Homo sapiens: one gene and its partners. The protein of the gene in region 2 purifies or fractionates together with the protein of the main gene of each other region. This does not show direct contact. Each region holds a gene or a part of one and is shown on either strand. Other genes may lie near its edges.

What was found.
Region 1: the proteins of DIS3L (region 2) and GIGYF2 purify together in Homo sapiens (affinity purification with mass spectrometry; 3 studies listed by BioGRID and IntAct, with this or other methods). This does not show direct contact.
Region 3: the proteins of DIS3L (region 2) and HBS1L purify together in Homo sapiens (affinity purification with mass spectrometry; 5 studies listed by BioGRID and IntAct, with this or other methods). This does not show direct contact.

The regions. Positions count from the first base shown.
Region 1 is NC_000002.12:232,784,309-232,791,472, forward strand, and holds part of GIGYF2 (GRB10-interacting GYF protein 2), read left to right. Parts: intron 1-2,841; coding exon 2,842-3,021; intron 3,022-6,389; coding exon 6,390-6,607; intron 6,608-6,699; coding exon 6,700-6,862; intron 6,863-6,949; coding exon 6,950-7,138; intron 7,139-7,164. UniProt on the Homo sapiens protein: Key component of the 4EHP-GYF2 complex, a multiprotein complex that acts as a repressor of translation initiation. In the 4EHP-GYF2 complex, acts as a factor that bridges EIF4E2 to ZFP36/TTP, linking translation repression with mRNA decay.
Region 2 is NC_000015.10:66,296,568-66,303,567, reverse strand, and holds part of DIS3L (DIS3-like exonuclease 1), read right to left. Parts: intron 1-7,000. UniProt on the Homo sapiens protein: Catalytic component of the RNA exosome complex which has 3'->5' exoribonuclease activity and participates in a multitude of cellular RNA processing and degradation events.
Region 3 is NC_000006.12:135,051,822-135,059,871, reverse strand, and holds the start of HBS1L (HBS1-like protein), read left to right. Parts: upstream 1-5,049; 5' UTR 5,050-5,180; coding exon 5,181-5,223; intron 5,224-8,050. UniProt on the Homo sapiens protein: GTPase component of the Pelota-HBS1L complex, a complex that recognizes stalled ribosomes and triggers the No-Go Decay (NGD) pathway.

The DNA of each region.
Region 1 (7,164 bases), on a different chromosome or scaffold from region 2:
AAATAAAATGAAATTTTAAATTTAGCTGAGTGTGGTGGCATGTGCCTGAGGTTCTAGCTACTTACACGAAATAATTTCTTTTTTTTTTTTTTTTTTTTTGAGACGGAGTCTTGCTCTGTCACCCAGGCTGGAGAGCAGTGGCGTGATCTGGGCTCACTGCAAGCTCCACCTCCCAGGTTCATGCCATTCTCCTGCCTCAGCCTCCTGAGTAGCTTGGGACTACAGGCGCCCGCCACCGCGCCCGGCTAATTTTTTCTATTTTTAGTAGAGATGGGGTTTCATCGTGTTAGCTTGATCTGACCTCGTGATCTGCCCGCCTTAGCCTCCCAAAGTGCTGGGATTACAGGTGTGAGCCACCGCGCCTGGCCACAAAATAATTTATAAAAGCTGCAATATGGTTTTTGATATATCAGATATTACATAATAACTACAATAGATTTAGATTATGACTTCTCTGGTAAACCAAGTGATATAGTTTGGATGTTTGTCCCCTCCAGATCACATGTTGAAATGTGATCGCCAGTGTTGGAGGTGGGGCCTGGTGGGAGGTGTTTGGGTCATGAGGGTGGATCCCTCATCCCCTCCCCACTGTAATGAGTTCAAGAGTCTGGGATCTCTGTCATCTTTCTTGCTCCCTCTCTCACCATGTGACATACTTGCTCTCACTTCACCTTCCACAATGAGTAACAGCTTCCTGAGGTCTCACTGGAAGCCAGACAGATGCTGGTGCCATGCTTGTATAGTCTGCAGAACCACGAGCCAAATAAACAACTTCTTCTTCTTTTTTTTTTTTTAATAAATTACCCAGCCTCAGGTATTCCTTTATAGCCATGCAAAATGGACTAATAAACCAAGGAAAGCCAGAATATAGTTCTGACATTCCAGACACGTCCTGCAGGTAAGAGCAAGGTCATAGATAATAAAACCCTTGCTTGGTGGTTCAAAACAGCAAACATTTATTATCTCAGTTTCTGTGGGTTGGGAATCTAGAAGCAGCTTAGCCTAGCTGGGTGGTTCTGGCCCAGGGTTCTTGTAAGGCTGCACTCAAGGTGTCAGCCCATGCTGCAGTCTCTCAAAGCTCAACTGGGGTTTGATCCACTTCCAGACTCACTCATGTTTCTGGTGGTAAGTCTCAGTTCTTTGCCATGCAAGCTTCTCCACGAGGTCTGTGTCACTACATGGCAACTAGTGTCCTTCAGAGAAAGTGTCCAAGATGGAAACTACAGTCTTCTTTAATATTTTAAGTGGCATCTCATCACTTCAGCTGCATTCTGTTAGTCCAGCTTATAATTGGGGGTAGAGGATTCCACAGAGATCAGCAGTCAGGGATTGTTGGTGAGCTCTTAGAGGCTGTCCACCACAATAAGAAAGCAGCAGATCATGTCTTCCATTCTCCCAAGATATTTTATCTTTCAGTAGAATGATACCTAGTAGCAGACTAACAACCATATGGACAAGCAGGATGCTGAATCTCAATATATGTAAGATGGAATATAACAGAATGACCAGAAATTAGAATTTCATTTTCATATGCTGTTGTTCAATTATTTTTTCACTTTTAGTATGGATTAATTAAAAGGATTGAGTTTGTCATTATGAGAACTTGAACTTTTATTGTTATAAACTGAGGACATCAATGTATGTTATTCTGGATTTTCAACTATTTTGATGTGAGATTTTATAAATGTTATGAGTTATATATGTTAGCACATGTGGAATGGTGACTGAAGAATTTGTTTGCACAATTTAGAATGATCTTGTCCTTTTAAAATACCAGTTTAGTTTACTTGGTATACCAGGCTCTCTTTTGACATTAATGTAACTTTTGAGACATTAGGTTAGACATAGCTTAGCTTTAAATTCTGTCCAAAAGCAATTTATGGTATGCCTGTATTGTATTAGGTGCTAGAGTAAATGAGGTTATACTACTTTTCAATTTTTTTTTTTGAGACGGAGTCTTGCTCTGTCACCCAGGCTGGAGTACAGTGTCGCGATCTCTGCTTACCGCGACCTCCGCCTCCTGGGTTCAAGCCATTCTCCTGCCTCAGCCTCCTGAGTAGCTGGGATTACAGGCACTTGTCACCACACCCAGCTAATTTTTGTATTTTGAGTAGACATGAGGTTTCACCACATTGGCCAGGCTGGTCTCCCAACTCCTGACCTCGTGATCCACCTGTCTCGGCCTCCCAAAGTGCTGGGATTATAGGCGTGAGCCACCACGCGGCCTGCTTTTCAGTTTATAATCTGTTTTGGAATGAAAGACGGCCTGAAATGTACAGATATCATGTTTAGGCAGAATCACCAGTAGGTGTTGGTTATATAAAGTATGTTGTATGATGAAAAATATCTTATAACTTTAAAAAGTATGTGCTAGTAAGGAAGGATTGGCAAGATACACTGTTAGTGAAAACAGCAAACAAAACAACATTTATAACATCCTGAGGGTGGCGTTTGTGTGTGTGGATGAGGGAGCTATGTATACATGTGTAAGTGTACCCATGGACAGTGTTTGGAAAGACTTTATAAGAAACTTGGTGATGGTTCCTTCTGGGGAGTACGACTCTGAGGGTCTTGTGTAGGAAGATGGACTTTTCATTGTACGCTTTTTCAAAAAAAATTTTACATAATATTTTTGTTTAAAAAAATTGCCCAGTCTCTGAACATGGCTTTAAGAAATGTGTCTAATAATATATACATATACCCACTGTTATTTTAGTGATTTTTTTCTGAATATTGAAATGGACCCATTTGCAGGAAAGCTTGATTTGAGCTGTGAAGTTTGTTTTCAAAGCCTATACTGGCAGAGGCTCATGTTTACTTACCATATTATTTTCTTTATAGGGAGACCAAATTTTGAGGAAGGTGGACCAACATCAGTAGGGAGAAAGCATGAATTTATACGCTCAGAAAGTGAAAATTGGCGCATCTTTAGAGAGGAACAAAATGGAGAAGATGAAGATGGAGGTTGGCGACTAGCTGGATCAAGGAGGGATGGAGAGAGGTGGCGACCTCACAGTCCTGGTAAGAATTCTGTTGAGTAAAGGCACACAGGGACTGAAATAAGGGAAAGTTTGATGGAAATAGGGATTAAATGAAAAAGATAAACTGGCTTAAAAAATGTGGGGGTGGATTCATATTATTTATGCTGTCACAGTTTTATTACTAGAAAAAATTGCAACATAAAAATTTCCTACATCTATTCAGTTGATTGAAATCACTTTTCTATTTTTCTGGGGCAAATAGTGTAGTTTAATGGGAAGCACCTGCGCTCAACTGCAGAAATGAGGGTTTCATTCAGTTTTGTCTACCTCTAAATCTCTGAATCTTTTTTAGCATTCTTTAAGATTTATAAATGTGTAAAAATTACACACTTGAAATATGTGCTTCCCTCCCCAACAATGAGTGTTTTTCCTAACAAGAAAGGGTTTATTCTTTCATTTTTTCCCTTTTGAAAATGTGATTTAACCTTATTTGAAGAATAAGCTTTAAACCTAGGTCAGAAACATAATCACAAGTTCATTCTTATGTCCTTCTAACTTTAGAAGAAGGAGAGACAATAGTAGTGATTAGTGGCTTTTAAAGTTCTTCTGTTTGTCTCTTAAAAATGCTCAAACTGTTCTTCTTGGACATTAGATATGCTAGTAATTGAAGACACTAGTGCTTTGTGTTAAAGTTCATCCTGTACCACAGTGCTGATTCCATGCCTCATGATAATCAGATGCAACTGTAGTTCCAATTGTGGGGTCATGCAAAACTGAAGCACACAGAGTATATGTGGAATGCCCTATGAATTTCATGTGTATGACAGTATTTTATCAACCATGTGCCAGAGGGGCTTACCTTTAATACAGGAAATTATGATAAGTAAACTGTTTTCACTTTTAAAAATCAAGTTATTAGCAAAACCACTAGCTTAGATCTGGGTAGACATTATAACAGGCATTCAGAGTATTTTAAGGAAGTGGTAGGTAGATAGAAACATACTGAAGTTAATGTTTGGGTAGAGTTAGGATGGTTTTATACCAACTCTTCATGGCTGCCTCTTGGGTGGGTTTTCTGTCATTAGTGGGCATTGTTTACATCACAAGGTCTAGACAATTTTCATTAGTCTGTGACCTGGGCCAGATGTTATAGTTCTCTAAAAGGCATCACTGCATTTTATGCTGAGCTTGTCCGTAGGCAGAGGGTTTGTAGACTATGTTCCCAACAAGCATTCAGTGAAGAATGGATAGGATCTGGGCTGAGAGAGAAAAGAAATTCCAGCTGGTCAAAAACAAACAAGGTGAATGTTTTGGAAGATGAACTGTGTTTTTTGAGCCCAAATGTCTGATGTTGATTCTATTAAAGGGAGTTTAACAAAGTACCTCCCACCCAACAACTTAGAATTTGGTTATATATTATCTTCTTCTCATCTTTTCTGAATCTTTCTTTCCCCCTAATATTTGACTTTCATATCATTTTTGTCATCAACTTGTGTATCTTCCAGAACTTTTAATCCATATACATATATATTTTTTCAGTCACACCTGTGGCTGAAATCCATATATTTTTAAAAGACAGTTTGGGGGATATAAAGATCCCCCAAATATAAAGTTTGGGTCTGAAAAAACAGTGTAAATGCATTTTAAAAAAGAATACGATTCACTTTTTAAACCCAGTATATTCAAAGTATAGCCTGATTATAGCAGTTTTCATATGTTAACTCTTAACGTTTGTTAGTTTATGGTTAATCTTTTATTAAGATTTGAGTAAAACTTTAAATTATTTTAACTGATTTTATGAAAATAGTATCCAACTTTAGTTTAGATGTAGGGTCTGTAAATCAGCAGTCAGCCTTAATAAGTACCTTGCATGTCTTACTTGCTATGTTTAGTTTCGTGAGTAAAATTTTATGAACTACTGATAAGATAACATTATGGGATATAAAATAGGGCTTCCGGCTGGATGTGCGTGGGGGTGGGAACATTAAGGACAGGGAGGCATCCAGTCTGGGAGCTGAACCTAGGAAAGTCAGTAAGAGGAGAAACATGAGCCAGGTACCTAGAAGGATAGATTCCTGTCATGATGTACATTTAGACTGTTAGAAATGAAAGCAGTACAGAGGGCTCTGGAATTCATTTGATCATGAAGACTCTTTTCACATAATGGCTCTAGGTTTCCACGTAAGCAGTCTGAGTATAAAATTCCTTAGTTCTCATAGGAAGTAGTAAATAGTGTTTTGTTGTTTTTATATGAAGGGATGGGAGTGTGGGACTAAGATTTCTTTTTTGTGAGTGGCTTATCAGATGCTACCTGTATTTGGCATTTTAACGTTTTGCCCTTTGTTTTCCAATTTGATTTTTAGATTGCTGGTTTTTGCAAAGTTTGTCTCAATAGTGAGAACATTTAACTCTGGCCACATTTCTTTTTCTTATCCCCCACAGAGAAAGCAGTCAAGGATGGAAAATTCTAATAGGTTAAAGCCTGCTTTTCTTTTTAAGACTCTTTTAGACTCAGGTCTGTCAGATTTTAGCAAGAGTTTCCCTTTCTTTTTTTTAGAAAAATATCTTAAGTAGGATCTCTTATTATTAGGCAATCTTTTCTTCTGTTGGGAAATGTAGATTTGGGAATGTCCGTAGGGGTATTATATGGATAGGGAGAATTAAGAGATGAGAAAGAAGGGAGAGGAGTAAGTATGTTATTGTGGAACAAGCAGCAGAGGGTGCAGAATTGGATTTTAGTTCTACTTTGCCATGTGCGAGTTACTTCTGCTGGCAAAGTTTTAGTTTCTTCTTAAACTATAAAATTAGGATAGTGAACTTCATAAAATCTCTGTGACAACTTTCAGCACTGTAATTTTGTGAATTTTTGGGGGAGGATCAGAATTACAAGTGGGAACCTGGCATTAATAAATAGTCATGATGAGTTTGATATAAGTCAACACAGGGAGCTGATTTTATCCACAAACAATGATATTTTCATGGGAAGAAAGAAAATGCTTTAAGATTGGGCAAAAGGAAGGTGTAAACTTCAGTATGGAAGGATGTCTAGTGCATTAAGTCTGGATGAGGAGTTGGCGGCTAATCAGTATTTTAATCAAGTACCTAGGACTTACTGAAAGTGCGTACTTGGAATACAGTGTCCTTTAAATGTACTGCATTTTAGATTTATCTTTTAAAGCTTTAGAGTATGTTGCCTGGCTCAGTACTTAAGTACTGTTGTCATCTCGTAATGGTACATATACTCTGAACTCTGAACTTCATTTAGTTGCCTAATGTTCTCTTTACTAGGTCAGTCCATTTGAGTTTGCGGTCACTTGTAGTTTTCTCCTTTATTTTCTATTCCTGATTTTCTTATTCAAATACTGTCATAAAACTTTTCTAAGGTTTGTGTCCTCCTTCTCATCTCAGATGGCCCTCGTTCTGCAGGCTGGCGGGAACACATGGAACGACGTCGGAGGTTTGAGTTTGATTTTCGAGATAGAGATGATGAACGGGGTTACCGAAGGGTTCGCTCTGGCAGTGGGAGCATAGATGATGACAGGGATAGCTTGCCCGAATGGTGCTTAGAGGATGCTGAAGAAGAAATGGGTACATTTGACTCATCTGGAGCATTCCTTTCTCTAAAAGTAAGAAACGTGTTTTAAATGTCATGACCAGCATTAACCTTATACCAAAGCCAAATCTGCTGTTGATCTTTGGTTTTATTCTCTTTCTACAGAAAGTACAGAAAGAGCCTATTCCAGAAGAGCAGGAGATGGACTTCCGGCCTGTGGACGAAGGGGAGGAGTGCTCTGACTCTGAGGGTAGCCATAATGAAGAGGCCAAAGAACCCGATAAGACAAATAAGAAAGAAGGAGAGAAAACAGATAGAGTAGGAGTTGGTAAGGCCTCTTCTTGCCCTTTGCCTTTTTTTTCCTCCATCAAACCAAAACTTTCGTAAGTTCAACTAAGATTACTTCGTGTTCCAGAAGCTAGTGAGGAAACTCCCCAGACCTCATCATCATCTGCTAGACCAGGTACTCCTTCAGACCATCAGTCTCAGGAAGCATCACAGTTTGAGAGGAAAGATGAACCAAAAACTGAGCAAACGGAAAAAGCTGAAGAGGAGACTCGGATGGAAAATAGTCTACCAGCCAAAGTGCCCAGCAGAGGGGATGGTATGTATTTGTGGGAATAGACAAGC
Region 2 (7,000 bases):
AGTATCTGAACTTACTGTAGTTATTTGTTTACAAATGATCTCTCTTGCTAAGCATCCTTCATTTAGAAAATCTTTGCTTCTATGTGCCAGGTCTGCTGGGGGAGGTGAGGGGTGCTGCACTGAATGCCCTGGGGAATACCAACTAGACATCCCACTGCATCTGAATAGTGTCCTACGGCATAGATAGGGCAGTGCCCCATGTCTGCAGCAAAGAAAGGAAAAATAGACATACCATACGATCCAGTAATCCCACTTCTGGGTATATACCCAAATTGAAAGCAAGGACTCAAACAGACATTTGTATACCTATGTTCACAGCAACACTACTCACAGTACACAGGCAAAAGGTGGAAGCAATCTATCAATGGATGAATGGATAAACAAAATGTGGAATATATTATTCACATTTAAAAAGGAAGACAGTTCCAACACATGCCATAACATGGGTGAACCCTGACACATTATGCAGAGTGAAATAAGCCACTCACAAAAGGACAAACACTGTGTCATTCCAGTTACATGAGGTACTGAGAGTAGTCAAATTCACAGAGATGGAAAGTAGAATAGCAGAATAGGGGCCAAGGAGGGGAGACAGTGTTTAAGGGGTATAGAGTTTCAGTTAGGACAGATGAAAAGTCCTGGAGACAGATGTTGGTGATGGCTGACAACAAGGCATATGTATTTAATGCCTCTGAACTGTGCACTTAAAAATAGTTAAAATGACAACTTTATGTATGTACATTTTACCACAATTTAAAATAAAGCTATGCTACTTGGCAAAAACAAACCAAACATAAGACAGAACCACCCATTTCGGTGGGATAAGTGCTTGAAAGGAGAAGATGGGAGGGATGGGAAGGCTTCCTGGAGTAGGTGACCCATGAGCTCTGAAGGATGAATAAGAGTGAGTGGAGACAAAGAGCCCAAGAGACGAGAGCAGGGCGGAATGTGCGAGACAGCAGACAGTAAGGCTTTACTTCAGTGCTTTACCCCCAGGTGCTGAATCAATGCTTTCCAAATGAACAAATGAATGCACAGCCCTACATGATAACAGTGATCCAAGTGCAGGGTAATAACGCCCCTGAATAAACTGACATTTCCAGAGCCCCGTTGCCTTTTGCTAAGCTTCATAGACATCACTGCATTTGTTTTCACACCTTCACTTCAGACCCAGGGTTTTTGTTTTTGCTTTTGTTTTTTTGAGACAGGAACTCGCTCTGTTGCTCAGGCTGCAGAGCAGCAGCGCGATCATGGCTCCCTGCAGCCTCAAACTCTCAGGCTCAAGTGGTCTCCCACCTCAGCCTCACAAGCAGCTAGGACTACAGACGCAGGCCACCATGCTCAGCTAATTTTTTTGGTTTTTTTTGTATTGAGACAGGGTCTCACTATGTTAGCCAGGCTGATCTCAAATTCCTGAGCTCAAGCTATCTTCTTGCCTTGGCCTCCCAACGTGCTGGGCGTGAGCCACCGTGCAGACCCAGGGATTCTTGAATTCTGTTCTCTGCAAATACTGATGTGTCTGCCACAAGCCAGACCCAGGGGTTACCACCAGATTAGAGTAATGACAATCCTTCCTAATATTTAGAAAAATATATCACTTAACAAAAAATGTTCTCAATTTTAAGTTTCACTCCCATATATATTTTCTTAGACTTTTAGTGCAAGCTTCCATTTGTCAGCTACCTATCAGCCAGATAAAACAAATGAACAAACGGCAAAAGAATATTAATGCAGAAAGCAGGAAACAAACAGCGAATCACTCTGAGTGTGACAGTCAGGTTTGCTTGTAGACATGTGGGCTTACAGTTATAATTTAATAGCGCATACATATGATATAGTCATATTTTTTGCTAGTCAGGATTTTGTAGTGCATATGATGGGACCAGATAGATGAACATCCTGCACGGAGTCAGCAAACAGCACCATGTGCCTTAAGCGAATTCGACCAGAATGACAGGAGAACAATGGTTTCAGACAGTCAAGTACAGGTCAGGTGTGGTGGCTCATGCTTGTAATCCTAGCACTTTGGGAGACCGAGGCGGGAGGATCACTTGAGGTCAGGAGTTTGAGACCAGCCTGGTCAACTTGGCAAAACCCTGTCTTTACTAAAAATACAAAAATTAGCGAGGCATGATGGTGGGTGCCTGTATTCCCAGCTATCTAGGAGGCTGAGGCAGGAGAACCGCTTAAACCCAGGAGGCAGAGGTTGCAGTGAGCTGAGATGGCACCACTGCACTCCAGCCTGGGTGACAGAGCGAGACTCCTTCTCATAAATAAATAAATAAATAAATAAATATAAATTCAACTCTTGCAGAAAAACCTTAGTTCCTTGGACTGGCTTGGATGTTTTCTAAAACTCCATCATCTTAATGTTTTAAGCAATTTCTCAGAGGGGCAGTTAAACCTACCTTCTTTAGGTTGATTTTTTTTACTATTTTTATTCAGTGGTGACCTTACCTACAGATGCAACATCCCTTTCCGCTGCTGACTGTTCTCTCTAAGGATTAGAAGTGGGAGTCCCACACCAGTGGAAAGACCTACAAAGTGAATTCTGTACTAAATGTGTTTCATCACCTGGATTTTGCAGAACCCAGGTAGGGTCTCACAGACTTACCTTCAGACACCACTGAGTTTTCCACAAGTTTATATTGCCATTTATATTAGACAATACTCACAAAACATTTTTATGGAGTACATTTGGGGCCATCTGAACGACTGCCTTCTAACTGCACTGCCATTTGGCGTCAGTGCGGCCCTCTCAGATGCCCCAGAGACACTTCAAACTCTCGACCTTGACTCCCCTGCCCCCAGGCTTCCTCTAGTGTTCCCTCTCTCCATCCAGTCATGTAGGCCAGAAACCTCAGTGATACTCTTGACCCTACCTTCCCCGCCATCTCACATACCTAAATCTATCACTAGTTCTAGAGATTTTAAAAAAGAGCAGCTTTATTGTACCTAAATCTATCACTAGTTCTAGAGATTTTAAAAAAGAGCAGCTTTATTGAGATATAATTCACATACCATAAAATTTGCCCTTAAAACACACACAGTTCAGTGGGTTTTAGTATAGTCACAGTTATGCAACCATCACCGTCGATCTAATTACAGAACATTTTAATCACTCGGAAAAGAAATCTGTATCCATCCATTAAGCAGTCATTGCCTGTTCCCCTTGACCCCAGCCCCCGGCAACCACTAATCTACTTTCTGTTGCTATTGATATACCTGTTCTGGACATTTTACATAAATGGAATTATACAACATATGATGTTTTTATGTGTGCTCTGGCTTCTTCCACTTAGCATGTTTTTGTGGTTTATCCACACTGTAGCATCTATCAGTACGTCATTCCATCTTATGGCTGAATAATATTCCCCTGTATGGATAGTCCACATTTTGCTTAACCATAATCAATTAACGGACATTTGGGATGTTTCCATGTTTTGGCTATGATGAAGAAAGCTGCCATGAACATTTGTGTATGATGTTTTCATTTTTATTTATTTATTTATTTTTGGAGATGGAGTCTTGCTCTGTCACCCAGGCTGGAGTGCAGTGGAGCGATCCTGGCTCACTGCAACCTCCGCCTCCCAGGTTCAAGCAATTCTCATGTCTCAGTCTCCCGAGTAGCTAGGACTACAGGCGTGCATCACACACAGCTGGCTAATTTTTTGTATTTTAGTAGAGATGGGTTTCACCGTGTTGCCCAGTCTGGAACTCCTGAGGTCAGGCAATCTGCCCAACTTGGCCTGTCAAAATGCTAGGATTACAGGCGTGAGCCACCGCGCCCGGCTGTGTATGATGTTTTTAGTTTCAATGTTGACATGTTTTCAATTCTCTTAGTTATACACTTAGGAAGTTTTATATATTTTTACCTATTAAATACTCCTTGGAAACATCTATTTCTCTCTATCTCTAAGCTACCAACATTCCCTCATCTGGACTAAAGCAAAAGCCTCCTCCCTTCTTTTTTCCAGGCCTCTTCTCTACCTGGCCCAGTAATCCCTTTTTTTTTTTTTTTTGAGATGGAGTTTTGCTCTTTTGCCCAGACGGGAGTGCAACGGCGTGATCGTGGCTCACTGCAACCTCCGCCTCCCAAGTTCAAGCAATTCTCCCACCTCAGCCTCCTGAGTAGCTGGGATTATTACAGGCACCCACCATCACGCCCAGATAATTTTTGGATTTTTGTAGTGATGGGGCTTCACCATGTTGGCCTGGCTGGTCTTCAACTCCTGACCTCAAGTGATCCACCCACCTCCACCTCCCAAAGTGCTGGGATTACAAGTGTGAACCACCGCTGAGTAATCCTTTCAGGACAGGAATCTGATCATGTTATCCCATTTTGCTTAAAAGTTTTCCCTGACATCCCTGAGGCCATGAGGCCTTCCATCCCACCCAGGCATTCTTTCTGCTCCTGGGGTGTGCCACAGGCCCCTCCCCATGGGCCCCAGGCATTTTCCTCTGCCTTGAAAGCTTTCCTCCACTCTGCCTGGTTTATGCCAACCCTTGGACCTCCACCTAGGCGTCCCCCTCAGAAAAGCCCTTCCTTGCCTCCCTGGGTGGTCTGGGCTCTCCTGGCGCCCCATCCCTGTGCTTCAGTGCATTTGTCACAGTTGCAGTTCTGCATCTGTTTGTGTAATTGCCCGATTACTGCCTGTCACCCTGCCAGGACTCCATCTGCTTTGGTTCGCCACTGTACCCTCAGTGCTAGCAGTTTCTGGCACATATAGTCTCTTGGTGAACATTTGTTGAATAAACCAACACACATGTGAACACATGAACATGGTGGACAAAACAGCCTTACAGAGTTGTCAGGGGGACTCCTCATTAAATAAGCATTTATTTGAAGATTATTAGATGGCAGAACATGTGATTATCCTGAACGACTTAAGACCTGACATTAGTCATACTGTTCTGTGCAATACACTTATGAGAACAAGCATTCTCTGCATTGATATTATTGAAGTCAAAATAGGAAATCTTATTACAAATATAACCAGATTAAAGGCTGTGTCTTTCCATTGTTAAACCTAACTCTGGTGATTTTGTTTCAGCAAAACAATGTTATCTGTCACGTTGAATAATGTTCATTTGCGGTTTTCTGATTTTGTTACTTTGATTATTTAGCTTACACTAGGGTTGTATTAAAGTACTTAAACATGAGGACTTATACCGAGATTTATGTTTAAACACATTTAAATAACAATAGAAGAAAATAACACTGGGTATCCAGGAGGATTTTTTTCTTTTAGAAACAAGATGGATATATCACTCATGTTGAGAACACTGAGGTACTGGATGGGGAGTTAGATCATGTGACCTTTCAGATCTCTCCAACCATAATATTCTACAATTTCAATCTTTTTTTTTTTTTTTTTTTTTTTTTTTGAGACGGAGTCTTGCTTTTGTTGCCCAGGCTGGAGTGCTGTAGCATGATCTCGGCTCACCACAACCTCCGCCTCCCGGGTTCAAGCGATTTTCCTGCCTCCGTCTCCTGAGTAGCTGGGATTACTGGCATGCGCCACGTCATCTCGCGCATTTTGTATCTTTAGTAGTGACAGGATTTCGCCATGTTGGCCAGGCTGGTATCAAACTCTTGACCTCAAGTGATCTACCTGCCTTAGCCTCCCAAAGTGCTGAGATTATGGGCATGAGCTACTCAGCCTGGCCTGATTCCCATCTTATATACCATCAAGAAACTGAGGCATGAAATATGGAGACTCTCTGAAGCTATACAGAAGGAATTCAGGAGGGAGTCAAAAGGAACAAGCAAAGCATCCTACACCAGACACCAGACAGGACCAGGGATTATTAACTGACAAAACTTTCCTAACCAAGAATGTTCCTAAAAGCATATTGGATAAAATGAATTATTTACTTGCATCTCAAAAATGTCCAAGGAAGAAATGAAAAACAAAACAAAATGTTCCCCAACATTAAATGAACAAAACACTAGAGAGCTTCTGCTAGGCCAAGTTCAGTTAAATATAAAAAGTTAATTATCACCAAAAAAATGTTAAGTATGTAAAGTAATGCATATGCTAATTAGCTTGATTTGGCCTTTCCACAATGTATACATATTTTAAAACATCATGTTGTATACCATAAATATATATGATTTTTAAAAATAAGTTTTTTAATAGAGACAGGGGTCTCACTATGTTGCACAGATTGGTCTTGAACTGGGCTCAAGTTATCCTCCTGTCTTGGCCTCCCAAAGTGCTGGGATTATAAGTATGAGCCACCAGGCCTGGCCAAATACATACAATTTTAATCTGTCAATTAAAAAAAGTCAAATAACTTACACTTAACACTTAGGAAGGCTGAATTAATCAAGCACATCTCTCAGATCTTATGTATTCAATGCCTATTATTAATTTGAAAGTTAGCCTTTAAGAAATGACACTTTCTAGTGCTCAGACAATTTGGGTCATTTAGCTATGTCAACCTGAAGGCACCTGCTGGTTGCTTAACAGGTAAACAAAGTGCCAAGTCCCAAATTTGCTGATTTCTTCCTCTTCTTCAATCATACTCGTAATACGCCTTAAAGACCAGTCTCAAATCCATTTCCCCCAAAGGATTTTTTGGCCTAATTGCTCCACTCCACGTTTACTTCTGCACTTTGCATAGTCCACGTTAAATTATCCTTCGTGTGTCTAAGGCGCTTCATAATAACTGTCTTGTTTCTTCTATCTAACCCCAGCAAGACAATAGGTTTGTTGTTAGAGGGACTAAGACTGATTTTGGGCCGGGCACAGTGGCTCATGCCTGTAATCCCAGCACTTTGGGAGGCTGAGGCAGGCGGATCATGAGGTAAGGAGTTCAACACAAGTCTGACCAACATGGTGAAACCCCATCTCTACTAAAAATACAAAAATTAGCCGGGCGTGGTGGCGTGCACCTGTAATCCCAGCTACTCAGGAGGCTGAGGCAGGAGAATCACTTGAACCCGGGAGGTGGAGGTTGCAGTGACCTGTGAGCCGAAATCACGCCACTGTAC
Region 3 (8,050 bases), on a different chromosome or scaffold from region 2:
TACTTTCCTAGACACTTAACTAGAAAATTCTAGAACTTTTCTTATATACCATGTCTAATGTCACAATTATAACTATCCTCCATCCCTCCCATTCTTTTTTGGAGATGGTGTCTTGCTCTGTCACCTAGGCTGGAGTACAGTAGCACGATCTTGGCTCGCTGCAACCTCTGCCTCCTAGGTTCAACTGATTCTCCCACCTCAGCCTCCCAAGTAGCTGGGATTACAGGCTCCCGGCACCACGCCTGGCTAGTTTTTGTATTTTTAGTAGAGACATGGTTTCACCATGTTGGCCAGGCTGGTCTTGAACTGCCCGCCTTAGCCTTCCCAAGTGCTGGGATTACAGGCGTGAGCCACCGCGCCCAGCCTTATTCTTCCTTTCTTAATGACTAAGATCAATTCCTTCATTTCTTTTTAATAGTTATGGAGTAGAAGCGTCACTATAATTTATTTACCAAACCTCATATGAGTATTTAAGTAGCTAACAAGGACAGTGTTATTTCAGGAACAACAGAAAATTTTAAGTGTAAATGGATGAGTAATTGTTTAGTTTCAAATACAGGATGAAGAACAGACTATACTCTGAGAAATACTGATATATTGTTAAGTAAATTCTAACTCAGATGTATCACAGTGCTTAGATCTTTAAAACAGGACACTATATGCTGGGCATGGTGGCTCATGCTTGTAATCCCAGCACTTTGGGAGGTGGAGGTGGGAGGATGGCTTGAGCTCAGGAGTTTGAGACCAGCCTGGGGAACATAGTGAGAACTTGTCAATACAAATAAAATAAAATAAATAAATAAAACAACACTATGAGGCATAAAGGAAACATCTGACATATATGTATATATTAAAGACAGGAATGAAAATTCCATTTAATAAATTTTTGCATTTTTTAATTTGGTTTTTAAATTGAGGTATAACTTATTACTGAAAGGTGCATAAATTTTAAATGTACAGTAAAATAAAATTGTATACATGTATAAAACCTTATAATCCTAACCCAGATCAATATATAGAACATCTCCAGCACCTCTGAAAGCTCCCTTTAATTCTCTCTTTCCTGACTCCATTAATATCTACTTCAAAAGTAACTATCATTTTGACTTTTTTTAATTTTATTTTTTTTACACAGAGTTTTGCTCTGTCGCCCAGGCTGGAGTGCAGTGGCGTGATCTCGGCTCACTGAGACCTCCACCTCCCGGGTTCAAGCAATTCTCCCGCCTCAGCCTCCCGAGTAGCTGGGATTGCAGGTGCGTGCCACCACACCCGGCTAGTTTTTTGTATTTTTAATAGAGATGGGGTTTCACCATGTTGACCAGGCTGGTGTCAAACTCCTGACCTTGTGCTCCGCCCATCTTGGCCTCCCAAAGTGCTGGGATTTACATGCATGAGCCACCGCGCCCGGCCGTAAGCTTAACATCTTTAGACCTCATGAAGTGTTGGCAATGATGTTGAGAAAATAGAGAAAATGGAACTACATTGCTGGTGGAAACATAAAACTTTACAACTGTTTTTGGAAAACAGTTTGACAGTTTCTTTAAAAAGCTGAAGATAACCTATCATATCATTCTACTCCTAGGTATTTACCCAGGAAAAATTAGTTTATGTTTATACGAAGATTCGTACACAGATATTCACAGAAGCCTTATTTACAGTCGTCAAAATGGAAAACAAACCAAATATCTCTCAATGGGTGAATGGAAAAACAAATTGTGGTATATCCACACAGCGGAATCCTCCTCTAATAAAAAGGAATGAACTGTTGATTCAAGCAACTACACAGGTGAATCTCAAAATAATTATGCTGAGTGAATTAAGACAGATAAAAAAGAACACATACTATATGATTTCACCTGTATAAAATTTTAAAAAATGCAAACAACTCATAGTGACAGAAAGACGATCAGTTATTTTGAGGGGCCATGGTGAGGAGGCCTTGACGGGCAGGAAGGATTCCGGGATATTCTGGAATTTTTATTCTGGATATAAAGGTACTTCAGGAAAATTTTGAAAGTCTGGATATGTTCATTATCTTGATGGGGTTGATGGCTTCACTGGTGTATACATACGTCAAAATGTATCAAAATTACACATTATGTGCAGTTTATTGTCAATGATATCTCAATAAAGTTGTTAACATTTTTTCAGTAATGTAGTTATCCTTTCATTCATAATTTTTTTCACAAATCAATATAAAATGATTTGTATTGTTTTTTATGACATTAACAATTCCATAGCAAGAGAAATGTCATTTTATTTCTCTTCTTTTACTCATTAATTCATTCAGCAAACATTTAAAGTGCCAGACATTAGGGTGCCGGAGAAACAAAGATAAAGCTTTGAAATTAGTAGGGGTAGAGAAGTGGCATTTACTGAGTACCCATTCTGCAACACCTACTGTTTTTACATATATCATTTACTTTTCACAAAACAGAAGACATACATTTTCATATATTCGATTTTACAGATGAAGACATTAAATCTGAAGTGGTTAACAGCAACAAAACTGGGACTGAAATCCAGGTTCGTGGTACTCCGAAGTCATAGTACTTTCCATCAAAACACAATACCAGAGTTTTATTCATTTATTTTTTGAGTCGGAGTTTTGCCCTTGTTGTCCAGGCTGGAGTGCAGTGGCACGATCTCAGCTCACTGCAACTCCTGCCTCCTGGGTTCAAGCGATTCTCCTGCCTCAGCCTCCCGAGTAGCTGGGATTACAGTCACCCACCACCACGCACAGCTAATTTTTTTTTATTTTTAGTGGAAGATGGGGGTTTCACCATGGTGGCCAGGCTGGTCTGGAACTCTTGACCTCAGGTGATCCACCCGCCTCAGCGTCCCAAAGTGCTGGGATTACAGGCGTGAGCCACGGTGCCCTGCCCACACCTTACAGAGTCCTGAGGGGAGTGGAACAATCCTAACTTTTTCTGAAGAAGTCAGTGAAGGCTTTGCCATTGAGGCTCTACTGTTTGAGATGCAGTAGATGCTGTGCAATATTTAGAGTTTTAAAGGAGTGCGTTATTGACGACCTAAGGGCAAATTATATATTATCTGACAGAAGTAACGTTTTCTTATTCATTGTTCCTGTAGTACTTTGCTTATGTGGTCTATAACTCATTCACTTCATACCTCAGTGAGTTGTAGTTAAGCTTGTAATTGACAATTACAGTGGAGTGGAAGCTGCCATTTGTATTTTAATAACACAATTTTTTTGGGGGGGTGCAGAGTCTCACTCTGTCTCCAGGCTGGAGTGCAGTGGCACAATCTTAGCTCACTGCAACCTCTGCCTCCCGGGTTCAAGCGATTCTCCTGCCTCAGCCTCCCGAGTAGCTAGGACTATAGGCACGCGCCACCATGCCTAGCTAATTTTTGTATTTTTAGTAGACAGGGAGTTTCACCATGTTGGCCAGAATGGTCTTGATCTCTTGACCTCATGATCCGCCTGCTTCAGCCTCCCAAAGTGTTGGGATCACAGGAGTCAGCCACCGCGCCCGGCCAATAACACAATATTTTTAAGCACCTACTATGATCTGTGATAAATCCTCTTATACGGATACATTATTCACAGCTCGCGAGTTAGTGTCTCTATCTCCTTTTTACAAAGAAACAGGCTGCAAAATAAAAATTACCTAAGGGTGTAAAATAATAAAAACACTTAAGCCATGTAACATTAGCAACTATCTCTATTTTTCTGTAAACTTTTATTTTGGAGCCACATTAAACAACTATTTTTGTAGTCAAACACATTCAAATGCATGAATAAATTACGTTCCAAGCCACTTACAAATATAAACTAAATTTGGATTACTCTTATTTCTTTCTATTGTGCATAGCAAAAAGCTGAGGAAGCTTTTAATTATCTCTAGAACTCAACATTTGCCTTTGATGTGAAGTATCATCATTTCAAAAACACAAGCTAAAACTGAAGTGGTGTTCAGTATAATGAGGTTGGTTTCTTATATAGCATTATTAACTTTATGTTCTGAGAAATGAGGACATTTAATAGCAGGTTATAGATTCATGCATCAACAACATTCAGCATTACCACCTAAGGCCAGTGCTATGTCTAAAAAGCTATATTTAATACTCGCAATGTTACACACAATTATGTCTTCAATGAATGTTCAGTGAATCCTTCTTTATGATGCTGATAAATATCGTCTATATAGCTAAAATCGTTTACATAGCTAAGGGCAAATCGCTGTTTACTAGGGATAGTAATGCCGAACGGAGTGAATACATGAAGTCGTAAATTATATGAATGCAGGGTGACCTAATATAGCCAGGGTCTCAATTTAATAATATATACCCGTTTAAAAATAGCCTTATTTCCTTCTCTAAAGCTTGGACTCTTTTTTTTTTTGAGATAAGGTCTCACTCACTTTGTCGCCCGGGCTGGAATGGAGAGGCCCGATCTCAGCTCACTGCAGCCTCGACCGCCTGGGCTCAGGGGATCCTCCCACCTCAGCCTCTTCAGTAGCTGGGACTACAGGTCTGCACCACAGGGCCGGCTAGTGTTTGTATTTTTTGTAGAGACGGAGCCTCGCTATGTTGCTCAGGCTGGTCTCGAACACCTGAGTTCAAGCGATCCGCCCTCCTAGGCTTCCCAAAGTGCTGGGATTACAGGAAGGAGCCACCGCACCGGCCTGGGCTAAATCTGATTCCAAGTTTACACAAGTTTGTTGAATGCCCACTGTGTGCTTAATGAAAGATCAAAGTTTGATAAAACAAGGTCCCTGCTCTTACTGAGCGCATAGCTTTCTCAGATTATCAGGAACCAAATTTGGAAAATAATCCAGAACGCTGGCGTAGGTAGCTCAAGGTTCCCCGCTTGCAACATTTAGTCCAAACCAGTCAATTCTAGGCGGCGGATTTCCCCATCCCCCTCCGTCGCCCAACCTTTGGGTGGGGCCACTCCCAAACGCTCCCTCCCCTCGTCCCGCCATGCACAGCAGTGCGCATGCGCCCTCAGGGAGGCGGACAGTGACCCTGAGGCATTGCCGTCGCGCGGTGCACAGCTAAGACGTCGCGCTTGCGCAGGCGCTCGGCGCAGAGGCCTGCGGGAAGCCAAGATGGCGCATAGGGGTTCTCCAGGCTGCAGTTGGCGCCTTATCAGTATCTAAGCGGAGTGTTTTGGAAGGAGTTAAGGGGCTGTGGCAAACGCCCTCTCCGCCGTCATGGCCCGGCATCGGAATGTTCGAGGCTATAACTACGATGAAGGTAGGTGGCAGGGTCATGCCGGGACGTTCTTTTCCCGGCTACAGCTGGGATCCTAGCCCGTTGGCATCCACTTCAATCTGTGAGTTTCTCGTCAGTGTTGCCCTGTCGGGATTGGGAGAGCCCCAGTTGGGGAATATAACAGGCCTTCTAGTGCTTTCAAATGCCGTCGTTTTTAAGTCATGATTTCTGCCCTCTGGGGTTGATTTTATTTGGGGAGGGGGAGGTGCTGCATAGCGTCATATGGGTAGGATATTGGTGAGGTTGAGATCCGGTGATATTTAGGCACGTAAGCATTATCACCTCTTCCATTGTTTCCTCCCATGTTGGGCACTAACGTGCCTGCTTCTAGCTCCTCTCTCCCAGATCCCCTTTGAGAAATGTCCATGAAACGTTGCTTATTTGTAAAACACAGATTGACTTAATACATTCAACGGACGTGTACCTGTGTTAGATTTACATGGTAAACCTTTTGTGTATGTCCATACATACCTAGTGCAGAATCAGTTTGCGCTAATTTATTTTTCAACGAATTTCAAAGTGGAAACTTAGGAGACGGTAGAAAAGACACATGTTAAAAAGGCCCAAAGAATGAGTCGATCAGATGGATCTTGAAGTTTATACTTAGTTCTTGGCTGGTAATGCTTGATATAAATGTATTTTGAAATGTAAATAAACGGCAGTACTAGAGGAAAGAGTGTATAGGAAAGGACTTTTTGATATTAAAAAATGAAATAAAAATGTCTGTATGAATGTTCTGTAGGAGTTAACAGGAGTTAGAATTATTTTTAGGAGGAGCACATCCCTCTTCATGCAGTAGATAACTATAGGCATCACCAAGCATCACATAAACTAAAAATATAAACAAAAATGAACTAATGCAGGAGAAGAATAAAGAACTATGCTTTACGAAGTGCAGAACATGTAGTGCTTAATATGTTGGTGATTGTCATTGGCACCCCAGTAGATTATTATAGAACATCAGTATGCTTTAACTAGAGTGAGGGCAGCTAACACCCTGTTCTCCATTTGGAACCTGTGACCTCAGTCCGTCTAGAACATGTGAATTTTCTGGTGGTTACTTTAGAATGGAGGCCCTTTTAAATAAATATTGCAGTGGATGGTATTGCATGTGGACCATTGTCACCTAAGAAATGACTTTAGATTGAGAGAGATTTTTGCAAATATAAAGTACATGAATAGGCCTATTTATTATTCATTCATTTCTTTAATAGTTGTTTATCATTTCCTCAACCACCATTAAGTTAGTGCTTAGAGTACTGTTCTAAGCTTTGAGGACTGAAAGTAAGATATTTGAGGGTGGTCTAAAAGGAGAAGATTATACGAGTTACAGATTATTAGAGTATGAAAAATGCTACAAAAGGTACTGAGAAAACGCTATGGGAGGGATACACAGATGAGAACACTTAATTCAGAATGGATTGGGGGGAATTTAAGCAGGATTTCTACGTTAAGGAATGCTTCATGGAGGAGAGGTGGTTGGCCTCAGGGAGCACCTTGGCTTCTTGAGGTTAGGTTGTCATGTTGTCATGCTTCTTTGAAACAATTGGTGACATCATAACCAAGCTGTTCCTGTAACATTAAGGAGGTTCATCCCCTTTTCTTGTTTATAAAAGTTGTACTCATTAAGGTCCAGTTTATTTCTCTTCTTCCCAGTTAGGCTTTCTCTTGAATTCTCAGAATAATAATTTAAAAATTCTGTTAAGAAATATAACCTCATTAGAGAGAGTTTGTGTTCTAAAACCTACTGGTTCCGCTACTTAACTCCCACTTTGTTTTTCTCTGTAATTTATGTAATACTTTACATGACTGCCTCAGTCACTGATTTAAAAGTCTCAGGAAGGCAAAATCCATACTTTAAGTAGCTGGCACAATGTTCTTTACATGTGGTAAATATTTCATAATTTTGTTGATTGAGGAAACAAACTATGAAGATTGCAGGAAAGAATTCTCTTCATCTTTATATGTTGTGGCACTTTAGGGTCAACTTCAGCATTGACAAACTGACCTAGTAAAAAAGAGTTTTTTTTCTTTTTTTTTTTTTTTTAAGAGACAGGATCGCACTTTGTTGGTTGGCCAAGCTGGAGTGCGAGTGCAGTGGCATGATCATAGCTCTCTGTAACCTCCAACTCCTGGGCTCAAGCAATCCTCGTGCCTCAGCCTCCCGAGTAGCTAGGTCTACAGGCATGTGCCCCCATGCCCGGTTAATTTTTTATTTTAGTAGAGACAGCATCCGGCTGTGTTGCCCAAGCGAGATCCTCCCTCCTCGGCTTCCCAAAGTACTGGAATTACAGGTGTGAGCCACGATGCCTGGCCTATTGTTGTCTTCAATATCTAAAAATACTTTGTTTGTGAATGGCCCCTTGTTTATTTGCAAATAAATTTTTATTAACTTGGGATTGTGATCTAATAATTTATTTAATCATATATGTTTTTGCCCAATAGTAGCATTTATCTAATTTTTCTTTGCTGTAAGCATTTGGTCTCAGCCTTTGAGCATGCTGTTCCTGCTGCATGAATACCCTCAGAAACTAGCTAACTCTATCCTTTGGAATTGGTTTGGATATTATATTAATGGGGATCTTTCCCTAGCTGCCCCACTCCCGGTTCTAGTTTTGTCATTCATGTGTGTGTTCCCAAATTGCTCTGTGTTTCTCACATCAGGCACTTGTCACATGGTTTTGTAATTGCCCATTATCTTGTGTGTATTCCTTGTCAGATTTTAGGTGCAGTGATAACTGGAAATGTGTTCACTGTTATACCACAGTTGTCTCAACTACTCCCTGGCATGGTGTTAGTGTTTGTCAAA